Homo sapiens: one gene and its partners. The protein of the gene in region 3 purifies or fractionates together with the protein of the main gene of each other region. This does not show direct contact. Each region holds a gene or a part of one and is shown on either strand. Other genes may lie near its edges. The genes, in order: PDZD8, VANGL2, KCNS3, FNTB, PIGA, HCLS1 and RHBDF2.

Region 1 (3,500 bases), on a different chromosome or scaffold from region 3:
TTAAAAGAATGTATTTTGCCATTGTTGAGTATAATGTTCTATAAGTGTCAGTTAAATCAAGGTTGATGATGTTGAGGTTGCCTGTGCCTCCACTTCTTTTTTCTAGTTATATTGGTTGCTGAGAGGATGAAGAAACCAAGTTTTACCTCTAACAGCAGCTTTAGTAAAGTTACATTGCAAAGAGACATGCTTATAAGAATAGGAGGAATTTGTTACCATGTTTTATGGTCTACCACTGAGTTCATTTTCAGTCTTTTTTGGGTTTTGTTGGTGGTGGTGGGTTTTTTTTGTTTTTGAGGCAGGGTCTAGCTCTGTTGCCCAGGCTGGACTGTAGTGGTGCAGTCATGGCTCAATGCAACCTCCACCTTCCCAGCTCAAGTGATCAAATCAGGATAACTAGCATAGCCATCACCGCAAACATTTCTTTGTGGTGAAAATATTAAAAATAATCTCTTCCAGCTATTTTGGAATATACAATACATTATTAACTATAGTTACCCTATTGTGCAATAGAACATCAGAACTTATACCTCCTAACTGTAACTTTTTATAGCCACTTCTGATCTCCCCACTCCCCCTATTCTCCCCAGCCTCTGGTAACCACTCTTCTACGTCTATTTCTATGAGATCAAGTTTTTTAGATTCCACATATGAGTGAGATCATACAGTATTTGTCCTTCTCTGCCTGGCTTATTTCACTTAACATAATGTCCTCTGGGTTCATCCATGTTGTCATAAATGACTTTTCTCTGGGGTTTTGTTTTTTGTGGCTGAATAGTATTCCACTGTGTTTGTATACCGCACATTTTTTATCCATTTATCCATTGATGGACTCTTAGGTTGATTCCATAGCTTGGCTCTTGTGAATAGTACTGCAGTAATCAAGGAAGTGCAAGTATATCTTCATCATACCAATTTCATTTTCTTTGACTATATACCCAATAGTGGGATTATTGGATCATTGCTAGTTCTATTTTTAAATTTTTGAGGAACCACTGTACTGTTTTTCATAATAGCTGTAACTAATCTACTTTCCCACTAACAGTGTATAGGAGTTCCTCTTCTTCCACATCCTTGTCAATATTTGTTTTTTTGTTTTTTTTTTTTTTTTTTGTCTTTTTGGTAATAGCCATTTATTTGGTAATATGTGTCTTCTCTCTTGTTTCTTGATCAGTTTAGCCTATAGGCTTACCAGTTTTATTGGTCATTTTATTGAGTCAGCTTTTATTGATTTCTCTATTATTTAAGTATCTGTTCCATTGGTTTCTGTTCTTTATTATTTCTTTGCTTCTACTTTGGGGTTTAATTTCTTAAAATGGGGACTTAGGTCACTAATTTTAGATTTTCCCCCCTATATAAGCATTTAAAACTATAAATTTCCTCTAAAACACTACTTTAGTTGCATCCCACAAATTCTGATTGGTTGCATTTTCATCATTTCATTTGAAATATTTTTGGATTTCTCTTGTGATTTTTCTTTAACTCATGAATTATTTAGAAGTGTGTTGTTTTGCTCTCCAGATATTTGGGGTTTTCCTAGTTACTAATTTGTAATTTAATTCCACTATGGTCAGAAAACATGCTTTGTAAGAGTTCTGTCTTTTTAAAATTACTGATATTTGTTTCATGACCTTCTACATCCTGGTGAACTTACCATGTACACTTGAAAAGAATGTATTTTGCCATTGTTGAGTATAATGTTCTATAAGTGTCAGTTAAATCAAGGTTGATGATGTTGAGGTTGCCTGTGCCTCCACTTATTTTTTTCTAGTTATATTGGTTGCTGAGAGAGGGATGAAGAAACCAAGTTATACCTCTAGCAGCAGCTTTAGTAAAGTTACATTGCAAAGAGATATGCTTATAAGGATAGGAGGAATTTGTTACCATGTTTTATGGTCTACCACTGAGTTGATTTTACTGTTCTCTGTACTTTTGTATATATTGGAAATTTTCTGTAATAAAATCTTAAAAGCCAAACCCTCTCAGGTGATATTATATTCCAGGGAATGCATGTTGAAGCCACAGCATGCTTCACCATGTACAGGAAAAATATTTAGGGTTTCTATTTATGTTTGTTTTTTACATTGTCATTTTAAAAGTTCTATTTTGGCATATGTTTTATAGTGCCAGGCATATCCAATAGTCATAAATAATTTTAAGATATAGATGCATACATATGGGAGAGAATTATATATTATATATCATTGTACTATTCTGGTTTTAAAATAGTAGTTTTACCCTAGTGGAAAATCAGTTTTGTTCCAAAAGTTGTGTATCATTGCATGGTCTTGAACCTTATCTTAAATTTTATATTAAAATAACAATGTTTTTGTGAAATACTCATTTTAAAATGCTTTGTTTCACCAGGCTTTTAATTAAGAGGTGTTTTTATATTCTGAAACTTCTGAATCATGTCAGAACTTAATTAAGGTGATGATTTTCATTTCAGGGAATGCTGAAATTAAAATCTAAAATTAGGTCAGTGGGGTGCAGGCTTAAAAGGAAACAAAAACCAGCTTGTAAAAGAAACAGTGTCTTATGTTCTGTTCCCTGTACATACTTGAAATTAAGAGTATTTACTAATAATCAGTAAAAATTGGGGAGAAAGTGAGGTAATGTAATATTGGCCCTAATTATTGCTACTGAAAACCTTATCTTTTTTTTTTTTTGCATCTGGAATGTTTACTTCAGGTATCATTTGAATTAAGAAAAGCAAAGGGAAAGATATGATTTATAGATAGAAAATAAATTAAGAAACTAAATTACACTAACACCTTACACTAGCCTCTATTCACTTCCTAATCCTACCCCCTGAATCTCCATTCTACTTTTAAAAGCAGAGTAAATAACAAAAAAAAAAAACACATTCCAAATGCAGGTGTTAATTTTTAAACTTTACAGTACTCAGACTTACACTGTTTAGGTTTTCTACCCATTTGCTATCATTAGCTTCCTGCAATTAGAAAAACTTACATTCTAAATTTCAGCTTTGGCAATCTGTATATTAAGAATATATTTATGTTCCTGGATTTGAGAGAATATGTTGTTAAGGGTTTTGTTAAAAGCCTTAATTGTGTACAGCACTTTACATTGTAAGGTGATTAATTGCTGTGTCATAAGGCAGGGATTGGACAAATGTCTTAGGAGATTTAAACACAAATTACGTGTTTTGGCGGGGCTTTGTGTTTTGTAAACCTTTAGGTAATTCAGAATTTGACCACATATCCCATTTCTTGAGCACAGTATGATTAAGATTTTCCTTAAAATAACTTTACAAAATTTGTTAACACCCAAATTAAAGAGCAACTTCCAGTGAGGGTTCTTTTACCAGCGAATATCATTAGGTAGGAAAATTGAATTTCTGTCCAAGTGGGATTTATATATTAAAGCAGTGCAGCCAGTGATATATTTGGATATTAGGGTATTTGGCAAAGTCCCTCATGAGATATCCTTGAAGAATAGGACTTAAGAAATGTGGACTGGAGAATAATACAATTAGA
Region 2 (3,500 bases), on a different chromosome or scaffold from region 3:
AATGTTGGTGGTCAAATCAACAGGACCTAATGAGCGGGAAGGGAGAGTTAAGAATCCCCGGCCTGAGCAAGGGAGCAGATGGTAGCACCATCAGTAGGGTAGGGAAGACTGGGGAGGAAGCAGCCTTGTGAGGGAAGATAATTAGTTCAGCTTCTAGCCTGCTAAGTTAGTGGCCATGAGACAGTAGGCAGCCAGGTGTCAGACGAGCCAGACTTGGAGGACAGTCTGAGCTGGAGGTACTGAGTGTGTGAAAAGCTATGGGGATAGATAGAACTCAGATCCAGCTGAGTTCAAAACCTAACTCTTCCATGGACATAAAGGACCCCAATAGGTAGACATGTCCAGAGGAAAAGGAGCAGGCAAAGGGGATGAGAAGGCCAGAGGAGGAGGGGAGCCAGAAGAGTGGGGTCTCAAGGCAGCCAGAAATTTAACAGTGTTTTGAGGTGGGAATTAAGTCAACCAGGTCAAATGCTGCTGAGAGGCTGATTATGTTAAAAACTAAAATGGGGCCGGGTAATCCCAGCCTGTAATCCCAGCACTTTAGGAGGCCAAGGCGGGTGGATCACGAGGTCAGGAGTTCAAGACCAGCCTGGCCAAGATGATGAAACCCCGTCTCTACTAAAAAGCATGGTGGCAGGTGCCTGTAATCCCAGCTACTTAGGAGGCTGAGGCAGAGAACTGCTTGAACCTGGGAGGTGGAGGTTGCAGTGAGCCGAGATCATGCCACTACACTCCAGCCTGGGCGACAGAACGAGACTCCGTCTCAAAAAAAAAAAAAACCTAAAATGGATTTGCTTTGTATCATTACCTTTACTCCAACTACTCTAAACCATCAGTAATTTGAGAATAAGCAATATGATTGATACATATTTATATCCATCTCGCCTCCCATGGGCACAGAGCAAGGAACTGATACCAACCTAGTAAATGAACATAGTCATGCCTCGCTTAACCACAGGGATACTTTCTGAGAAATGTGTCATTAGGCAGCTGCATCCTGGGAACATCATAGAATGTACCTACACAAACCTTGACGGTATAGCCTACTACACACATAGGCCTTATGGTATAGCCTATTGCTCCCAGGCTACAAACCTGTACAGCATGTTACTGTACTGAACACTGTAGCCAACTGTAACACAATGGTAAGTACTTGTGTACCTAAACATAGAAAAAGTACAGTAAAAATACAATAGTATAATTTTATGGGACCACCATCATATATGTGGTCCATCGTTGACCAAAACATCCATGACTGTATGCCTCTCTGGCTCTCAGGGAAACTATAATGACTGTAGGGAGATGAAAGCATGTGAAATCTATTCATTCATCTTCTTAACAGAGTTCAATGGAGGCAATCCTCCATAGGATTAGTTATATTTGTCAGTATCCCCATGTCAAAGCACGTGCGTGATAAGGACACACTTAGAGGACAGGGACATAATACCTTAACCCAACCATAAGCCTTTCCAAAAAACTTTGCAGCAAAAATGACCCTTATTTATCCCCCTACCTGAAAAATATATGTTGGGCTCATCTACCCACTCTCCTGAGGACCCATTCTACTGGCCTACTCCTCCTTATAGTTTAGACATCTGACCTGCATTTCTCTTGTGGTTCCAGCCTATTCTTTCTAGTCTTCTTCATAAAAACTGAATTTTGCTAGGAGGCTCAAAGGCAACGAGTGGGTCACAGAGTGACATGGGGGTAGAGAAGGGGGTGGAGAAGTAAACAACTGCCACGGACTAGAGTCTAGACACACACACTAGATCCCAGGCTGTCCATCTCCTCATCCTCCTGTATACCCATCATCTGCCAAAGCCAACAGCCAGAAGAGCCAGAGATGTGCACTCAAAGATCTGAGTTCAAAACCTAACTCTTCCACTGACTAGCTGTGTGACTATGTGCAAGTTACTTAACACCTCTGTGCTTGTAGCCTGGTAAGCTCATTAGTAAAATAGTGAAGACAATGATGCCTTTTCATGGGGTAGCCGTAAGGATCACGAGGGTGAAAGAAGTGCTTTTATAAATGGTTCAGCTAGTAATTAGTTAAGCAATTAACAAGTTTTAGCTCCAGGATCACTCATACTCCAATCCTCAGACACTTCCTCTGAGACTAGGGAAAGAGGTGGTATAAATAAACCCTGCTGTTAGTACAACTAAATAAAGAAGTCTCACACATACACACACACACACACACCAACCAGAACCACCACTTCAAACACACCCAGAAGGTAAACTGATGCCATTTCATTTCCCCTACAGATAAATTTCAAACCAGACAAGGGTACCAGTCCCCTTTTGTTCTGAGCTGCCCAGCCTAGTGCCCCCTATCTTCCTCCCCTGCTACTTACTAAAGACTCAACATGAATCCTGCTCCCCTGGCCTGCCAACCCAAGTCAGAGTGCCCAAAAAGCACCAAAACACGCTTGTCTCCTCCCTACCAAACACAGGTGCCAAAAATGAACCCGACTTCTGAGACCCTTGCCTGCTGTGTCTTCAAGTACACCAGGGAACTAATCCAAGCACTGCTGCTGGGGGGCCTGGGAGGAGGGAGGAGAGGGGAGTAAAGAGAAGGGCAGAAGTTCCCCTTATTTAATCAGTCTCAGGGATCAGGGGTTTGGAGGGTCCCCTGGGTGGGCAGCGTTCCCAGGGAAGAGATGGGGGGAGGGGATGGCTGGATGAGATCAACAAGTGGAAACGTCAAGAGGGATGACGAGACAGGGAGGGAAGTCCGGACTTGGTGCAGGACAGGGAGCTGCCCTAGTCTGGGGAAGGGGGAGGCTATAGAAAAGGAATGTGCCCCACTGCCTTTCACCTTGCCCCCCACTTCCCAAGACACAAACACACACACTCAGTCCCCTGCTCAAACCAACCATGGATTATCTGGGGTTAAAATGAGGCCAGGGAGGAGAGAGGGAGAGAAGAGAGAGCCTGTTACAAAAAGGAGACCCTTCTCCCCTCCAAAGGCCTTTCAGAAATAAAATTAATGGAATGTGTCTCAGTATCATCCCAAGGGGATTGGGGGGGAGCTTGGCAGGGGGGAATGTGGGGGCTTTTGTCCCTGCTGCCCAGCTTCTCCCACATTGATCACCATGGCAACAAAAGCCCCCTGTTGCCTAGGTGATGGCAGCCGGGTCCTGGAACCCATACCCAGCATCCAAAGGGAGGGAGGTTATGGAGGTGGGGGCAATAGGGACAGAGGAGGAGAGAATGGGGTTTCTCCTCTGGCGGCCCCAGCTTTTGTCTGAGCTCTGGGATCAGGTTTCTTCAGGAAACAATTGGAGGCCTCTGGAAAAAATACACTCAGAACCTGGCAACAGGCAGAGGGAGCAGGGCCCTAGAGTAGTGCGTGCGTGCGTGCGTGTGTGTGTGTGTGTGTGTGTGTATAAGGGGGGTGGGTGTTGGCCAAAACACAGACCAGGGCGGACCAACCCTTTCCCATTTCCCACTCAAAGGAGGCGGCTCAAGTGGGCAAGGCGTTGAACACAAACGCCAGC
Region 3 (3,500 bases):
CTCTCTATTTAAGCTAATTTGAAAGCAGCTTATCCATGATCAACAATGAGCAAATGCTTAGAATCCTACCACAAATGTTCCTACATCCCCATTCATAGTTCTGCTAATTCAATTTATAAAAAATAACCCACATTAACACATATAAATAATGCTATTAAAGAACATTGCAGGAAGACTGCATTTTTAAAAAAATTATAAAATCACCAGGCAGTGAGGAAAAAAAAAAAAAAAAAACAACAGGGAAGGACAAGCAATATGCTCAGTTACCCAGATTTGGCGACAGAACCAAAGCTAGGATTCAAATGTCTAATCTTCTAGAAGTACTCAAAGTGATATGCTTAAAGTTACCTAGATTTTGAGATAAAGCCAGAGATAGGATTCAAATGTCTAATGTTCTAGAAGTGCTATAACTCTATACACAGAGGTATATATCTGTTAATTTACCAACGAGCTGGACTCACATCCCTAACCTCAGCCAAGGTTGCCTTCCACATAGACACAAACCTGCCCCTACACCCATCCTGTCTCTCTGCTCCCTTTCACAACCAAGCTTTATGTGTATGGTCTGCACTTCCTCACCTCCATTCATCTTTCAACCCAGGCCAATCTCACTTTAGGTTCCACTTCTGCAACACACAACACACCTCCAAACGAGGCTTCTGCTTCCCATGCTTGTACCTCTTCAGTCTATTCTTCTATCTGTTCTTCACAGCCTTCCCAGGCAATCTTGTATAAATTTAAATTGGCTTGTGACACTCACCTTCTGCAAATCCATTTTTCACAGCCCTCAGAATAAACCATAAGACCTTGAACTTGACCTAAAGGGCACAGCTTGATCTGACCCCAGCCCTCTTCTTTTTAAATATATATATATATATATATATATATATATATATATTTTTTTTTTTTTAATTATACTTTAAGTTCTAGGGTACATGTGCACAACGTGCAGGTTTGTTACATATGTATACATGTGCCATGTTGGTGTGCTGCACCCACTAACTCGTTATTTACATTAGGTATATCTCCTAATGCTATCCCTCCCCCCTCCCCCCACCCCACAACAGGCCCTGGTGTGTGATGTTCCCCTTCCTGTGTCCAAGTGTTCTCATTGTTCAATTCCCACCTATGAGTGAGAACATGCAGTGTTTGGTTTTTTGTCCTTGCGATAGTTTGCTGAGAATGATGGTTTCCAGCTTCATCTATGTCCCTACAAAGGACATAAACTCATCCTTTTTTATGGCTGCATAGTATTCCACGGTGTATACGTGCCACATTTTCTTAATCCAGTCTATCATTGTTGGACATTTGGGTTGTTTCCAAGTCTTTGCTATTGTGAATAGTGCCGCAATAAACATACGTGTGCAGGTGTCTTTATAGCAGCATGATTTATAATCCTTTGGGTATATACCCAGTAATGGGATGACCCCAGCCCTCTTCTACAACCTCCTCCCAGCTGTTCCCACCCTTGTTCTCTTGAAGTTCCTGCATAGAACAAAAAGAGGCTCAATGCTCATTCCTGCCTTAGAATCCTCAGCCTGGAATTATCTTTCTCCCACTCTTCACTTAATGGACTCCTTTTATCACTCAAAATGAAATGTCTCTTCCTCAGAAAGGTCTTCTCTGACCCTCTCATCTAAACTAGTGCCTCCCTACCCTTGTTACTCTCTCCCATGAAGTCCTTTAGAGAACTTACCACTACTTAAATTTTGCATTGGTTTGTTTAATGCCTGTCTCCCTCCCACTTCTCACCCCACCCCACCCCACCCCAACCCCCCACCGTTTCCTTTACCACAGTATACCCAGCACCTAGCATAGTACATAACATCATGTAAGTACTCAAATACTTGTTGAATGAATGTATGCACGGATTTGAATATATAATGAGAATACATATATGTGACTATATAAGTTAATCATTATGTCACCTTTGGTGAGCATCTGGTAAGTCCTCGGATGGCTGATTAGTAGAATACTCAGCAAGATACTTCATTCATTTGGCACTTCACCAAACTCACTGAGGCTGGCTGCTGCCAACATTAACTGCTTAACTGTAACATTATTGGCTAAAAGCAGATCTTATGCCTTTATCGTTCAATACTTGTGCAACTGAAGACAATATTTATACAGTATCTCCTCAAAGCAAATCGTAGTGCAAGGCTGTGCAGGATTCCAAAGAGAATGAGACCTCTTGCCCACAAGAAAAATACCACAACCTAGCCTAGTAACTATTTTAGCTTATTAAAGAGTTTACTTTTATAATGTGTAGATTTTGATCCTCTTAACAACTGTGAAAAAAAAGTATAATGTGCAGATATGCTAAAAAGTTTCAAAAGATGATCTAGAGAAATGATAAAGAAAAACAGGGATGAAAATTCTAAATCAGTTTCTACATTTTGTTGTACATTTTAAGCCTTGTTATTATGTTCATGATAATTGAGTATTCACTCCAGGCTTCACAAAACAGCAGGCCCCTGAAACAATAAAACAACAACACTCTTCTCCTCTTTCTCCTCCTCCCCAGCTTGTACTTACTCCCCATCCCCTGCCTCCAATAAGCACCCACAGTAGTCAAGACCAGCAAGCAAAGGCCAGGTCCAGGATGAAATTCAAACTCAGTTCCCCACTCCCCAAGGACTCTCGATAGCTCACTCCCTCCTGTTCTGCTCTCTAGCTCCAGAGAGAAGTGAGGCAGAAAGATGCTGGACTTAAAGTCAGAAGACCCCTGACTGTGTCCAAGTTCAAGGCTCAGTTTGCCTTAATTTCTTCATCAGCAATATGGGCTTCCTAACTTCTGTCCCACCTATAGCTTATAACTCTCAGTTGCTCTGAGGACTGGAATGAGATATCCCATGTGAAAGTTCCTACAAACCACAATAGGTTATACAAATGTGACCGAGTCATTGTGATTTTTATCAGGACTTAAACATTTAGCATCTTGTATTGTTCTATCTTGTCTCACTGATCTGGAGTCTCCAGATCCACTATAAGTTCAAGCTCAGAGACCATGTCATAGATTCTGCCTACCTTCATTGCCTGTAGTACTGGGCACTTAGCACCCATACAATAAGCACTTGTGAATTGGTCACTGGTTGATTTACTTGACAAATTTGCGTCGGAGTACAAAGTGTTCTGTGGTTTTTCTGAATTTCTTATATTGATAAACACATTTTCTGAAACTCACCATAATGTTTCCCTGGCCCATGATCTTTATGGTTTATCTTCCTTTTTTCCTAACCAGCTGGGCAGAATTTCACCGAAAAGCAGACCATTTTGTCAAAGGCAAAAATAATATTTTGCTAACGCAGTCTTTGAGATTCCTTTTAAGGCTGAGACATGGGACCCAAAAGTCACTTGGTAACTGTAAGCCCCCTCTGTCACTGTTCAACAAATGTAGTCCGAGATCCCACTAAGCACAGGGAACAGTGTTGGAACTGTAGGAATAAATGAGGAAAACTGAATCTCACAGTGGCTCTGCAGTCAGACTGCAAGGGATAGAA
Region 4 (3,500 bases), on a different chromosome or scaffold from region 3:
TAATCAGTGAAACAAGATAAATTAAACACAAATTTAGTAATTATCCCTGGAGATATAAACTCACACTTCCATGTGTAAACTGCCATTGTAAGGCCAGCTTTTTATTTTGTTTATTCATTTTTTACTTTTTTTAGAGATGGAGTCTCACCCTGTTGCCCAGGCTGTCTCGAATTTGTGGGCTCAAGCTATCCACCCACTTGGCCTTCCAAAGTGCCAGGATTACAGGCATCAGTCACCATGCCTGGCCAGTAGACCAACGTTTTAAAGATCATTTTAGCTGGGCGCGGTGGCTCATGCCTGTACTTTGGGAGTCCAAGGTGGGCGGATAGCTCGAGTTCGGGACCAGCCTGGGCAACACAGGGAAACCCTGTCTCTACAAAAAAATATAAAAAGTAGCCGAACATGGTAGCGCACGCCAGTAGTTCCAGCTAGTCAAGAGGCTGAGGTGGAAGGATCACTTGAGCCTGGAAAGTTGCTACAGTGAGCCATGATCATGCCACTGCACTCCAGCCTGGGAAACAGAGTGAGACCCTGTCTTTAAAAAAAAATAGAAATCATTTGAAAAAGTAATAAAGTGGTTAAGTTGCAGTGACCACAAATATATACCAACTGGAAACACTGCAAAAAAAAAATTCTAGGCTCACGTCTGTAATCCCAACACTTTGGTAGGCCAAGGCAGGCCTGTGAGGTCAAGGCTACAGTGAGTGGTGATTGCATCACCGCACTCCAGCCTGGGCGACAAAGTGAGACCCTTTCTTAAAAAAAAAGTCTAATGTTATGCAAGTGGATACTTGTAACTTGGAATAAACTGTTCAGTGGTAACACCTTATTCATATTCAAAAACGATGTATCTCAAGAACTGAACATGTGGTCCGGAAATCCACATTGGCTGACTCAAAAAGTGGCTCCAGTGATGATAAAAATAGTGAAGTCAAAGATGCATGTGAAGAGTCTGAAAAGAAACATTTTATAAATAAGAAGAGGAGGAAAACCAGCATTTCTAAATTAGTGTTACTTTATAAAGTAGGTGATTTTAAGTAGGTATATGGACCCAAATTTAAATGTAAATTTTGTAAGCAGGTATTTTTCACTTATATACCTAAAAGTACATGTATTTTCAACTTGACCAAAAACAACCTTTTGGACTTTTTAATGGGGAAATTTTGATATGCAGGATTACTTTACACTTGGGCAATATGGTATATGCTGAATTTCAATAAAATAAAATGGATTCAGAAAGCTAGCCTACTGACCACCTAACCAAGCAGAGCTCCAGTCCCTTCTATCAGAGGCATAAAAAGTTGGGAAGTTTTATCATATTTAGTGATTTGTTCCACCTCCATTTACTAATATTTTGGATCCTATAAGCTGAAATAAGTCAACAGCAGGTCAGGATTCTGTTCCGCTGGTCCCTCCTTAGGATATGTGGTGGCCCACTGCCCGAACCTGAAGCCAGCACATCACCTGCCTCTTAATACCCTGATAGGGGCCCACCCGCCCAGCTCACCTCATTTCCTACCACATCCAACCTGCACCCTCCGTTCCTGGTAAGCCATCTTAACGCCCCCAGTCAAGCCTGAGTCTTCCCTCAAAACAGCTCTCCCTCCTTGAATGGCTGCCCCAAACTCTATTTTTTACAGCCCACCCAGTTCCACGTTCTCCATGAAGTCATCCTGACCACCTCAGCCCACACAGATGGCTTTTCAACTCCCCAAAATCCTCGTGCAAAGCAGTTATAATTTAGCACTCTGTGACTGCCTATAGCATATTCTTCTTATTTTTTTCTTTTTTGAGATGGAGTCTTGCTCTGTCACCCAGGCTTGAGTGCAATGGTGCAATCTCGGCTCACTGCAACCTCCGCCTCCCAGGTTAAAGAGATTCACCTGCCTCAGTGTCCTGAGTAGCTGGTATTACAGGTGCACACCACCACGCCTAGCTAATTTTTGTATTTTTTTAGTAGAGATGAGGTTTCACCATGTTGGCTAGGCTGGTCTCAAACTCCTGACCTCCAGTGATCCGCCAGCCTCAGCCTCCCAAAGTGCTGGGATTACAGGAGTGAGCCACCGCACTCGGCCTTACAGCATATTCTTTTTTATCTCTCTAAGATAAAAGAATTTTGAGGGCAGGGATCAAGACTAATAATTCTCTTATATTCCCCTCAGAGTTCAAGTCACTTCATTGACAATGAACCATGCCAATGGTTCAATGACACCATGCCATTTAAAGTGGAGGACGCGTTTGCCTCTGTTCAAAGACAAACTCAAAGAAAAACAGTAGTATCTTTTGTAAACACCTGTTTTTGGCAAGGCTGCTACCTCTGAGACTATCAGTATTAACCTACTGGCCTGAATCAGAGTGTCTGCAATGGGATGATTCCAGATGGCACAATAAGGAAGGCAGGCACTAACAATACAACCATGTCTTGTTCTCTAGTGTCATGAAAGGCCCTCCCTGCATCTGCATTAACAAAACAGCTTAGCAAGGTAGAGACCTTCATAAAAATATCCAGAGCTGACCATTTCTCATTACCTCCACTACCGTCACTGTGAGCTAAGCCACCGTCACCTCTCTCCCAGGATACTGCAATAGCCTCCTAACTGGTTTCCCTGTATCCACCCTCACTCCCCACCATCTACTCTTGACAGTAACCTAAATGAGCCTGTTAAAATGCTAGTCAGACTGTGTCACTCCCCTGCTCAAAACTCTCTGATCATGGATCAGTCTAAGTCCTGGCAGGAAACAGATGGCACAAAGTGGGTGATTTGAGGAGAGTTTATAAAGGAACTATTTACAAAGATGTGGGCAGGTGTAGGGAAACCACAAGAGAAAATGCAGTATCTGGAGCTGGTAAATCAGGGGTACCTGAACTCCTCATAGACCTGAAGGTGTGAAGGATGGAGAGGGAGGGAGACAAAGAGCTCCGCAGAGAAGGCACATGACAGGAAATGTGACCTTAAGTCTAAGGAAACCCCACCCCACACAAGCCTGCAGGAGGGAAGAAATACAGTGGTCTCATTCTTCTCCTTCTCGGTCACCCCCAGCAATACTTCCCATGGCCCGCAGCCATAAAGCAAGGCAACCTGTCAGTGCAGGGCCCCCTCCTGGGGCACATCTACAGAGCAGGCTAGAAAAGGGCCAAGTGAATCTGGGGCAGTAAATGGCAGGTATACAGCCAAGTGGCTCTCCATCTCAGTCAGGGTATTTTAAAGTACTTCCAAAGGCCAATGAGACCCTACATGATCCGACCCATCTCCTACTCTCTGGTTTGCTAAGCCCCCTGCTCACCTGGCATTCTGCTGCCTTGGTCCTTTGTGCTTGCTGCTTTCTCTGCCCAGAATACTCTTGCACCAGATCCATGATGGCTTCCTCCCTCATCTGAGACTTCAGGTCTCAGATCACATGTGTTGTCACCAGAGGGTTCCCCTTAACACCTTATATGAAGACCTCCCCTGCTCCCACCCCACCCATTCCTGACACACCCTATCCCCTCTATCCCAAGG
Region 5 (3,500 bases), on a different chromosome or scaffold from region 3:
TTCAGGCCAAGTTTCCTTGCCAACCTCCACTTAAATGGACTGCTGGGTCAATCAAGATTCTCCATTCCAAACGTAAACTGACCAAGGCCCACATCTAGATTTTAGGCCACTCCCTAGCACACTGGCACACCACTGAATTCAGTGCTTGTCAAGAATCAATTGTTTGTTCACACATCTGTTTGATGTCAGTTGTACTTGTTATCGTCGTGTTGAGTAATTTAATTATCATATAAACTGACAAAAAGAGTATCCACAAAAACTAAGCTGAACAGTTTGAAAAATCCAATAAAGGAATGTCACAGAAAAAAGTTCTTGGCAGATGAGGGGTGTCCTAAACTACTGTATAAAATTGAAAACAAATTAAAACTCCTGAAGCATATCAGTTCATACGCCTTTAAGTTCTGACCCCACCCAAAAGAAACTCAAAGTAGCAATGGTAGATTATGTTTTATGAAGGAGGGTGTGCAAGATGCAGCTGAAACCAGTGGCCCAGCACTCAAAGCCTGCAATCCTACATCAAACTACGGGCAACTCAGTGTGTATTAATATTTTGAGTTTAATTCAAATATTAACTATTTAAGGGGGTATGTATTTATGTATTTTTTTTAATGATTCCCTACTATAAATGACACTTTTGATTAGTGGACAGGTTTTCAAATAGCACTCAGAAGACACTGTTTTTTATAACCAGACTGTGTCAGACTTTTAGTAAACAAGCCTCCACACATTCAACTGCAGTGTCCATTAAGTGCTGTAGAGGTACAAAAAACAGCCTCCTTGGCCAGGTGCAGTGGCTCACGCCTGTTAATCCCAGCATTTTGGGAGGCCGGGGCAGGTGGATCACGAGGTCAGGAGTTTGAGACCAGCCTGGCCAACATAGTGAAACCTTGTCTCTACTAAAAATACAAAAAATTAGCTGGGCTTGGTGGTGGGCGCCTGTAATCCCAGCTACTTGGGAGGCTGAGGCAGGAGAATCGCTTGAACCTGGGAGGCAGAGGTTGCAGTGAGCTGAGATCACGTCACTGCACTCCAGCCCGGGGGGTGACAGTGCGAGACTCCGTCTCAAAAAAAAAAAACCCAAAAACCTCCTTGATAATAGTGGACAGTTACAAACTAGGCTAATAGTTTATAGGAACTATCACTGAACCCTTGCGAGGTTCCCAATGTTGCTTACATTACACAAATGAAAAAACTGAGACTTAGAGATGTTAAGCTACTTGTCCTCGATCACACAGCAGGACAGACCCATCATCTGATCCCAGGACATCTAATCCCCTTTTCTTCATCACTTACCTGCCAATATGTTACTAATGTCTTATACATGATGAAATGAAACAAGCAAGCTACAATACAGTAACGTGCAGAGCAAGCCCACTGATTTTCAGTATATGTACGTACACATAAAAAAGACAGGAAAGCTATAAATCAAAATACTCATTAGGGTATCTCTGAATAATACAGTTACAGCTGATTTTAGTTTTCATCTTTGTGCTTTTCTTAGTTTCCAAAATATCTGCAATGAAAAGACATTACTTTGGCAATCAGAAGAAAAAAGCCATCTGTGAGCTCTGCCCTTTACTTCTTTTTTTTTTCTTTAGAGACGGAGTCTCGTTATGTCGCCCAGGCTGGAGTGCAGTGGCACGATCTCTGCTCACTGCAAGCTCCGCCTCCCAGGTTCATGCCATTCTCCTGCCTCAGCCTCCGGAGTAGCTGGGACTACAGGAGCCTGCCACCATGCCCAGCTAATTTTTTGTATTTTTAGTTGAGACAGGGTTTCACCATGTTAGCCAGGATGGTCTCAACCTCCTGACCCCGTGATCTGCCTGCCTCAGCCTCCCAAAGTGCTGAGATTACAGGTGTGAGCCACCGTACACGGCCTGCCCTCTACTTCTTTACCACATGTGCAGGGCTGTTTTAATTTTTAAAAAGATCTGAAATTTAACAGCATCAGGTTATTCTTATTTTTAGTAACCATTAAAACATCAAAGGTTGGGGGACAGCATTCACCACCATCCTGAAAAATCGCTCTTCTTGGATATATAAACCAATATTAGAACTTTCTTTGCTATAATTTATAGCATTATAAAACCATAAAACAAAATGAAAAGCCAAACAATCATTATATACAAGTATTCAACAGCTTTCTATAGGGAAAAAAGTCTACAATGCAATTATAGCTATCATTTCATTACCTTTTCTGTAAACAAGTCTGCTGACAACAACAATAGTTATACTATCATGCCTTCTAAATGGGTCTGGAGTGAAGTCAGTAGGATCTACAGCATTAGGAATGACGGACACTATTTCAGGATTCAGTGCTGCTCTTAGTACAGTATTTTCCTTACTAGTATAAGACACACAAATGATGTGGTTTGTATCACAAAGAGACACGGTTAGAAGCTTGTTTGTAAGCACCGAGCTGACATCAGCAAATCCAAAAAGGGAATGGTCCGTGAAGACTGTCTGAAGCCCCATTGTCTTGGCGTGGAAGAGAGCATCATGGGCCATAGCAGAAAAAGAACTATGTGAATGGATTATCGTGACTCTCTCCCGAACAAATATGTACCTGAGCAATGGCAGACTGTGAAAGAGGGTCGTGGCTGTAGACTGGTTGTACATGACTTTCAGAGGCAAGTAATAGACTTTGAGGCCACTGGTGAGGTAACGGATGCCTTTTCGATTTCCATAAGCATGGGTGACAATTATAACCTTATGCCCTCTTTCAATCAGGCACTGAGAGAGCTGGTAAATGTGGCTTTCCACGCCTCCCATATTTGGGTAGAAAAAGTCAGATACCATGCATATATTATGGGTACGGGTTCTACATGTGTAAAGACTTCCAGGGCTAACCCGAGAGAGTGTAGCTGAGGCACGGTGGCCATTCCCAGCTCCTCCTCTACAGGCCATGCTGAGACGGTTTAGACATCAGTTCTTAGAGCAACCCAGTTAAGAGATGTGTCCTCTATTACCTGAAAAAGAGTAAAACAGGATCTCAGCTCAGAAACAAAACACATTCCATATTACAAATCCAGATATAGATATTGTTTTAATGTTAATGTAAATTTGTTAGCTTTCCCCAGAATTAAAAATAAAGCAAATCATCAATTTACTCATTTGACATTTACTTGCTTGGCATTTACATACAACAAAACTAGGTTCTACCATGTCTTAATTTTGCCCTAAAAATACTGCTACATGTAACTTTAAATAGTAAGTTTGTTACACCACAGCATATCATGGTTTACCACGTTAACAAACCAGTCTCTTCCAATAATTAAGTATATATACACACATACATACACACATTTATATATTTCCCCTTTACTCTTATACTTTACCAGCTTCTATTAATACTTATTAAATGGCCACTATACATCAGCTACTACATGCTAAGACTCTTCTATATCTTATTGCAGCCTCACCAAAACTCCATGAGTTATCAACTCCATCTTATAAATGGAAAGTCTAAAGCTTAAAGGGGTTAAGAAATTTGTTCAGTT
Region 6 (3,500 bases), on a different chromosome or scaffold from region 3:
ATATTTCACTATTGCCTTCTACATCTTCCCTTAGCTTTGCAGTATGTTTTAAACTTTCCTGATTTTGTTTTTCATGGTTTTACCCCCCATGATGCAAACAATTAATTTTCTAGAACTTAGCTGCCTTAGCTTCCAATCCTTAGCTTTAAGGATGCATGTCCACCTAATTAACAACTGTTGGTAAAAACAAAGAAAAAATCTCAGCTAACTGTGAAGGAGCTGTCCTCTCTCTGTGTGCAGCTGCAGGGCAGGAGACACCATTCTGCACCATAAAAAATGAGTTCAAAGAATCCGACCTAATAAGGCGTGGAACTAAAAACATCGATGAGTTATCAATCTTACTCTCCTGTCAACGATATGATGCTGTAATCATACGGTACTTTTTTTTCTCTTTAAAACAACATTTTGTTTTGTTTTGTACAAAGGAGTCTTTAAAGATATCTGGACTTCATAGATTGATGCTAAATTCTGTAAATAGTAACCCTAATTAGTTGTTTAACTTGATTATCTGCTGCTATGGCAATAATATTTAAACTGATGAATCTGTTTTCCTAAACGGCATGAGTATTTATAAGGTTTTGATGTTAAGCCAAAAGAAGAGCTTAGATGATTCTCTGTTCTATCTTCATGCATATGAGTATAATAAAAACCAGTGGCTTGAGGAATTATTCATTCAAACACACAGTTTGAGAGTCTTCTCCTATTTGAATCACTGTCTTTCAGCTCAGCATGTGGCTTCCAACATTGGCACCAAGGAACTTGCTGAGGGAGGTATCCCTGTGACGGTGTCAGGTCCTCACAGCATCCACTGTCCTGTCTTTCAACAAAGAAGCATGTGCCTCCATCCAGGGGTGATCGTGGGCAATTTTCACAGGACTGGAGGTGGGTGGTTGGGAGAGAGAGTGGTCACTTACCTTGTCTGCCCTGTCCCTCTCAACTCCGTACTTGCCCCCAAAGCCTTTGGCAGCATCCGTCTGAGAAGAGTGCTTCTCCACCTCGGCAACATACTCATGGCCCACTGCACTCTGAGAAAAATCAAGGATGGAGTGAGTGAAAAGATAAAAATGACCTTAAAAAAATAAATACAGATATGGAGTGGGATGTAGGCATGTAAGAAATTCCATTCTGGGTCAGATCTATAGCCTCTGACAGTGGTGCCAAGGAATACGCGATGGGAGAGCAAGATGACTTTTTCTGGAGACCTGCTCATCCCTGTTCTTCTCTAATACCATTAGGAATCCTTCATTCTGAACACTCCCATAGGATGGGCTGGGAACCAGGGGATAGAGACAAGGTAGACAGAGCAGTGTTTAAACCAGAAACAAAAAGAGCTGAAACAAGAGCATTGTGCAGCAGAACAGAGTGTAGTGTGGGGTAGTGTGGAGGAGAGACCAAGGGGACTGACCGGACGCCATAGCCGGGATGGAATATTTCACTAGGAGAGCCAATGATTTTGTTCTAGATCTTTGCTCCTGTATGGCCATCAAAGTTCAGAAGTGAACTCTGAGCTTTATACACCATGTAATGTAGGACATGTATACAAAAAAAATCACTAAATACACAGTAAATAAAATAATAAAGAGAAGTTGCAACATAGACATAATACATAAACATTTAAATGCAGCAAATAATTTTAAAACATATTTTTTCCTTCTCCACTTGTGCTCCCTGTCTTCTTGGTCTAGGAGTTACAATGTGGTTGGGGCTACAACAGGCCAGCAGTTCTAATATCTTGGTTCTTATTTTCTGCCATGTATATCTTATGTGTTGAGATCAGAAAAATTTGATACAAATAATATGTGGACATTATATTTTAGACCAAATGACTACTGTACTTTTGAATGAGTTTTAACTCATGAACCAATGAATGAGTCAAAAAATATATATTTTGATCTAGAACAAAAGTATCTGGGTGTTTTAGCAAAATTTTTAAATATACTTAAATATTATATACTATATATTTATGAATAAACTATATATTTATAATATAAATATGTTATATCATATAATTATAATATATTAAAATATACATAATATAAATTTATATATTTACATTTACTTATAATTATGTAACATATATTAATAATATATATTTATAAATATATTTATAAATAATTATATAAGTATATAATATATAATGTATTAATATATAATATATTAATTATATACTTGTATTAATATATAATATATTAATTATATACTTATATATAATATATACTTATATATAACAGATACTATATATAAGTATATATATAATATATCTTATAATTAATATATAATAATATAATATTAAATATATTATTTATATTTTTATATATTTTATATATTTATATATATTTTATATATATTTATAAATAAAAATATATAATATATATTATATTTTATGTATTATATTTTATATACTTATATAATATAATATATATTATATATTAATTATAGTATATAATATATTACATTATATTACATATTATTACTATGTAATATATTACTATGTAATATATTACATAGTAATAATATGTAATATAATGTATTAATAATGTAGATTATATATTATATATGATATATAATATATAATATAGATATATTATATATTATATATACTTATATATAGTATCTGTTATATATAAGTATATAAGTATATATTATATATATTAATATATATTTATTACATATATTAATATATATAATATATATTAATATATATACTTATTATATATTATATATTATAAGTATATATTATATTATATATACTTATAATATATATACACTTATATATAATATATAAAATATAATATACATTATATTATATTTATAACATATATAAAATATATAAGTATATATAATAAATATATACTTATATAATTATATACTTACATATAATTGGCTCTTATAGAGCCAATTATTTTATAGCCAATTATTATAGAGCCAATTATTTATTATAGAGTCAATTATATATACTTATATATAGTTGGCTCTTATTATAGAGGTATATAATTATATATAAGTATATAATTATACATATTTACAAAATATATAAGTATATATATCAATTTTTTAATGTATTATTTATTTATTTTATTTATTTTTTTTTTTTTTGAGACAGAGTCTCGCTCTGTCTCCCAGGCTGGAGTGCAGTGGCATGATCTCGGCTCACTGCAAGCTCTGCCTCCCAGGTTCACGCCATTCTCCTGCCTCAGCCTCCTGAGTAGCTGGGACTACAGGCACCCACCACGACGCACGGCTAATTTTTTGTATTTTTAGTAGAGATGGGGTTTCACCGTGTTAGCCAGGATGGTCTCGATCTCCTAACCTCATGATCCACCCACCTTGGCCTTCCAAAGTGCTGGGATTACAGGCGTGAGCCACCGCACCCGGCTTGTATTTTTTTAAAGCAAATCTTTCCCTTTCAACTTACCTTGTCCATTCGGTCTCTTTCTACTCCAAACCGACCTCCATAGCCATGGGATGCTTTGGGCCCTGACTCCATCTCTTTCTTCCTG
Region 7 (3,500 bases), on a different chromosome or scaffold from region 3:
GCTGCTGTGCGTGCCCCCTTCCCTTCATTGCCCCAAAGCCTGCAGTCCAGCCCCAGGCTCGGGAGCTGCTGCCTCTTCCCTGGGATGTGGAAGGCACCTGCATCCCCGCCCAGCTGCTGCCACTTGCCTGCCTCCATCAGCAGCTTTGTTTTATTTTGTCTGTGTGTTTTTTGAGATGGAGTCTTGCTCTGTCGCCCAGGCTGGAGTGCAGTGGCGTGATCTCGGCTCACTTCAACCTCCGCCTCCCAGGTTCAAGCGATTCTTCTGCCTCAGCCTCCTCAGTAGCTGGGATTACAGGCACCCGCCACCATGCCTGGCTAATTTTTGTATTTTTAGTAGAGATGGGGTTTCACCATGTTGGCCAGGCTAGTCTAGAACTCCTGACCTCAGGTGATCTGCCCACCTCAGCCTCCCAAAGTGCTGGGATTACAGGTGTGAGCCACTGTGCCCAGCCTCCACCAGCAGCTTTTGAAATCCAGAAATTTCCAGGGGAGGGCACTGTGGTGGGTGGGGCCCAGCGCTGTGTCCAGCTCGAGGCCTGGCTGCACTGCCACCTCCTTTGGTGCCCACCCCTGTGTCTTGCCAGCAGCTGCTGCACATTGGGCTTCGGGGATGCAGGACTCCAGCACCCCCAGCTCAGCCTGCTTCCTGGACCAGGAACCCCAGCCGAGGAGGGGGCATTTGTATCTCTGCCATCCCTGCTGGCAACTGGTCCTGAGAAAGCCCAGATGGTTGGTGCAGAGGGGGCGTCAGGGGCTGCACCACCCTAAGAACATGACATGTCACCCCCCAGCCCCCCGCAACACACACACACAGGTTCACACCTCACACCCCTGATCTTGGCGGCTCCCTGGAGCACAGCACCCGCTTCCCGTGTCTGTGGTTGGCTTATGACGCCCCAGCCACTCTAACCGGGTTAAGGGGAGCCCAGAGCCTGGGGCCGGATAGGAAAAAGCCCAGAGAAGTCAGGGGATGGTCAGTCCCCTGAAGCTGCCCCTGGGGGTTCTTGATCTTCTGAACTGAGTTCGAGGCAAGCCCTGGAGGGGCGAGGAGGAGAAAGAAACAGCTCTCTGGGCCAGGACCCGCTGTTCGTGGGATGTCTGGGGAGCTGTGTGAACCCACAGGCCGTTTTGTTTCTCTCCATCAGCAGCTGTGGGCTGAAGCGTGTACCGGCGGAGTGGGTTGAGATCGTGTCTGCGCCCACTTGCCACCAGCTCCGGCCTCTGGGGAGGTGGTGCTGAGAGGGAGGGAGAGTGGCTCCTGTTTGGCTCCTGGAGACAGACAGCTGGGTGTCCCACCCTCAGAGTCCCCAGCCCCCTCTCCCCTCTGCTAACTCTGCCGGTGGAGCTCACGCCGCAGCTCATGCCAACCCTGCCCTTCTGTTTTGCCTCTCATGACTCTCCCCAAATTCTGCCCCCAGGCCCCCAGCCAGCCTTCTTGCCACTTTCCTGCCCTTTACTCTTGCCCCTTCTACCTCTTGCCAGGGCAGCGTCACTGGCTACGTGAGGCCCAGCTTGGGGATGCATGGGGAGGTGTAAGAACAGCTGTGCCATGAGCTGTCCTTCCGGGCCTCTGGGGCTGGAGAAACCCCGGGGTCAGCAGTACCACGGGTTTTGCTGGGGATTGCACAGTGGGTGAGGCTCAGCTTCCTCTTTGCAGCTTTCTAAAAATGCCCTGGTTCCCAGCAGGGCCACAGGCAGGGAAAATGAGTTTCAGTTTCTGTGGCAAGGGAGCTGGGGAGAGAAGCAGTTTCCTTGTCCCCAGCCCTCACCCTAGCATCCTGTGATTCAGCCGCGAAGACGTGGCCCCAAGCCTCCCACCGCCCTCCTTCTGTCCTGACTGCCCACTCCCAGGGACACCAGGTGACGCCTCGCCCACCCGCGGCTCCGGAGCCAGGCTGGAAGCAGCTTCCCGCCCAGGGGGTGGTTTCCCCACATCCTGTCTTCAGATGGCTTGAGCCCCCTAAACTTCCTGGTCATATCCAGTGGATAATAATGGTCTCCCTCTTTCCTGTCTGGAGGGGAGGGGGCTGCTTACTTCTTATCCAAGGGCCTGTCCCGTCCCACCCCTGTGTCCCCATTTCTGGCCACACGCAGGCTCAGCCCTTGCATCAAGCCTCTGCCTGTTTCCCTCTGGGCTGCACCTGTCACGCTCTCCCTGCCCTGCCCCATAAAGCCCATAGAGCCCAGGGCTTGTGGGGACTGCACCCTTCATTAGCAAGACTCAGAGCTTCTAGAAACCCACTTGTGTGGGGGTGGGGAGTGCAGGGAGATTGGTGGCACCAGGTGGAGAGAGGGAACTGCACCTGGGGGAGTTGGGAGGGGCAGTGGGCTGGGCCCGCGTGGAGGAGTGTGGCTTGTACAGTCCGCATGGCGGGGGGACCCTTGTACCCTGCCTGGACTGGCTGGTAGAGCTGTTGGGGACCTCCCTGGGGGTGGCCTTGCTTACCCAGCTGTGCGGAACAGGCTTGGTTGGGAGTGCCTGGCCTCACCCTTTGTGGGGAAACCAGATTCTCTGGGCAGCAGTGGTAAATGGTGTCTGAGTCTGTGTTTCGTTGGATGTGTCTGAGGTCCGCTGCTGCCAGCTGGGTTATGCTGTCTCCAAAGCTATCTGCAGTGGGGGAGGCCCTGAGCCTGGGCAGGGGAGGGTACAGAGGCCTCAACCCATGGGACCTGGGGGTGATCTGAACTCTGCACTTCACTTTTTTTCAGGATTTCCCCCGCCCCACCCTAAAGGAGGAGGAAATAGAGTCTGTCCCACCCTAAGCCCCAGTCCCTCTCCCCAGGTCTCTTTGGCATCTCCCAGCTGGGCTGGGGCTGAAGGCCCTTCTCTGGGGTTGGCCACAGTGAGGCCAGGATCTGGCTGGGCAGGTGGCAGTGTTCCGCCTGTGGGCTGGGTGCGGAGGCGGGCCTGGGGGTCTTAGAGAGAGAGCGGCGGATGTGACTGCGGGCCAGGAGGAAGCCTGGTCCCAGGATGTCACCATTTCCCCTGCAGTGAGCAAGCATCTCTAGGGCTCGGAGATAAGTGCTGGGTGGGGTAGCTCCAGCTCTCCAGCGCTTTTTTCTGTCTGGTTCCTGCCATCTGGACTTGAGCCATGAGGAAGGCCAGAGTGGGTCTGACAGTCCCCACTCCTTTCCCCGCTGAGCCCCAAGGAAGGGGCTGGGCCTTTGCACCCCCACCCCAACTTCTGCACGAGTTGGAGGCAGTTGATCTCAATGGTGGAAAGTGGCTGGTGCAAAGTCATGCTTCCATACTCCATGTTTAGGCTTCATGGGTGTCAAAGCTGGGCCGTGACCTTGTCCCATTCCCTCAGAGAAGGGAACTGAGGCCAGAGGGTGGAGCTGCTCTCAGGCCGCTGCCCAGGCCTCTTGTGCTCTGCGGTTCAGATGGCACTCCCGATGCCAGGCTCCTGCCCAGGAAGACATGCCCACCCGCCCTGGCCCTGTCTCTGCTGTCTGGTGTCAGGCCACCTCTCTTCGGGACCCCCCCCCAACTGATTG

The links.
Region 1: the proteins of KCNS3 (region 3) and PDZD8 purify together in Homo sapiens (affinity purification with mass spectrometry; 2 studies listed by BioGRID and IntAct, with this or other methods). This does not show direct contact.
Region 2: the proteins of KCNS3 (region 3) and VANGL2 purify together in Homo sapiens (affinity purification with mass spectrometry; 2 studies listed by BioGRID and IntAct, with this or other methods). This does not show direct contact.
Region 4: the proteins of KCNS3 (region 3) and FNTB purify together in Homo sapiens (affinity purification with mass spectrometry, with the first as the bait; 2 studies listed by BioGRID). This does not show direct contact.
Region 5: the proteins of KCNS3 (region 3) and PIGA purify together in Homo sapiens (affinity purification with mass spectrometry; 2 studies listed by BioGRID and IntAct, with this or other methods). This does not show direct contact.
Region 6: the proteins of KCNS3 (region 3) and HCLS1 purify together in Homo sapiens (affinity purification with mass spectrometry; one large-scale study listed by BioGRID and IntAct). This does not show direct contact.
Region 7: the proteins of KCNS3 (region 3) and RHBDF2 purify together in Homo sapiens (affinity purification with mass spectrometry; 2 studies listed by BioGRID and IntAct, with this or other methods). This does not show direct contact.

What each region holds. Positions count from the first base shown.
Region 1 is NC_000010.11:117,291,941-117,295,440, reverse strand, and holds part of PDZD8 (PDZ domain-containing protein 8), read left to right. Parts: exon of another isoform or gene 1-1,977; intron 1,978-3,500. UniProt on the Homo sapiens protein: Molecular tethering protein that connects endoplasmic reticulum and mitochondria membranes. PDZD8-dependent endoplasmic reticulum-mitochondria membrane tethering is essential for endoplasmic reticulum-mitochondria Ca(2+) transfer.
Region 2 is NC_000001.11:160,410,564-160,414,063, reverse strand, and holds part of VANGL2 (vang-like protein 2), read right to left. Parts: intron 1-3,500. UniProt on the Homo sapiens protein: Involved in the control of early morphogenesis and patterning of both axial midline structures and the development of neural plate. Plays a role in the regulation of planar cell polarity, particularly in the orientation of stereociliary bundles in the cochlea.
Region 3 is NC_000002.12:17,881,667-17,885,166, reverse strand, and holds part of KCNS3 (delayed-rectifier potassium channel regulatory subunit KCNS3), read right to left. Parts: intron 1-3,500. UniProt on the Homo sapiens protein: Potassium channel regulatory subunit that modulates the delayed rectifier potassium channel activity of KCNB1 by namely slowing down the deactivation and inactivation time constants.
Region 4 is NC_000014.9:64,989,895-64,993,394, reverse strand, and holds part of FNTB (protein farnesyltransferase subunit beta), read right to left. Parts: intron 1-3,500. UniProt on the Homo sapiens protein: Essential subunit of the farnesyltransferase complex. Catalyzes the transfer of a farnesyl moiety from farnesyl diphosphate to a cysteine at the fourth position from the C-terminus of several proteins having the C-terminal sequence Cys-aliphatic-aliphatic-X.
Region 5 is NC_000023.11:15,329,024-15,332,523, forward strand, and holds part of PIGA (phosphatidylinositol N-acetylglucosaminyltransferase subunit A), read right to left. Parts: intron 2,970-3,500; 5' UTR 2,908-2,969; coding exon 2,193-2,907; intron 1,625-2,192; exon of another isoform or gene 1-1,624. UniProt on the Homo sapiens protein: Catalytic subunit of the glycosylphosphatidylinositol-N-acetylglucosaminyltransferase (GPI-GnT) complex that catalyzes the transfer of N-acetylglucosamine from UDP-N-acetylglucosamine to phosphatidylinositol and participates in the first step of GPI biosynthesis.
Region 6 is NC_000003.12:121,643,904-121,647,403, forward strand, and holds part of HCLS1 (hematopoietic lineage cell-specific protein), read right to left. Parts: coding exon 3,416-3,500; intron 1,026-3,415; coding exon 915-1,025; intron 1-914. UniProt on the Homo sapiens protein: Substrate of the antigen receptor-coupled tyrosine kinase. Plays a role in antigen receptor signaling for both clonal expansion and deletion in lymphoid cells. May also be involved in the regulation of gene expression.
Region 7 is NC_000017.11:76,491,424-76,494,923, reverse strand, and holds part of RHBDF2 (inactive rhomboid protein 2), read left to right. Parts: intron 1-1,769; exon of another isoform or gene 1,770-1,862; intron 1,863-3,500. UniProt on the Homo sapiens protein: Regulates ADAM17 protease, a sheddase of the epidermal growth factor (EGF) receptor ligands and TNF, thereby plays a role in sleep, cell survival, proliferation, migration and inflammation. Does not exhibit any protease activity on its own.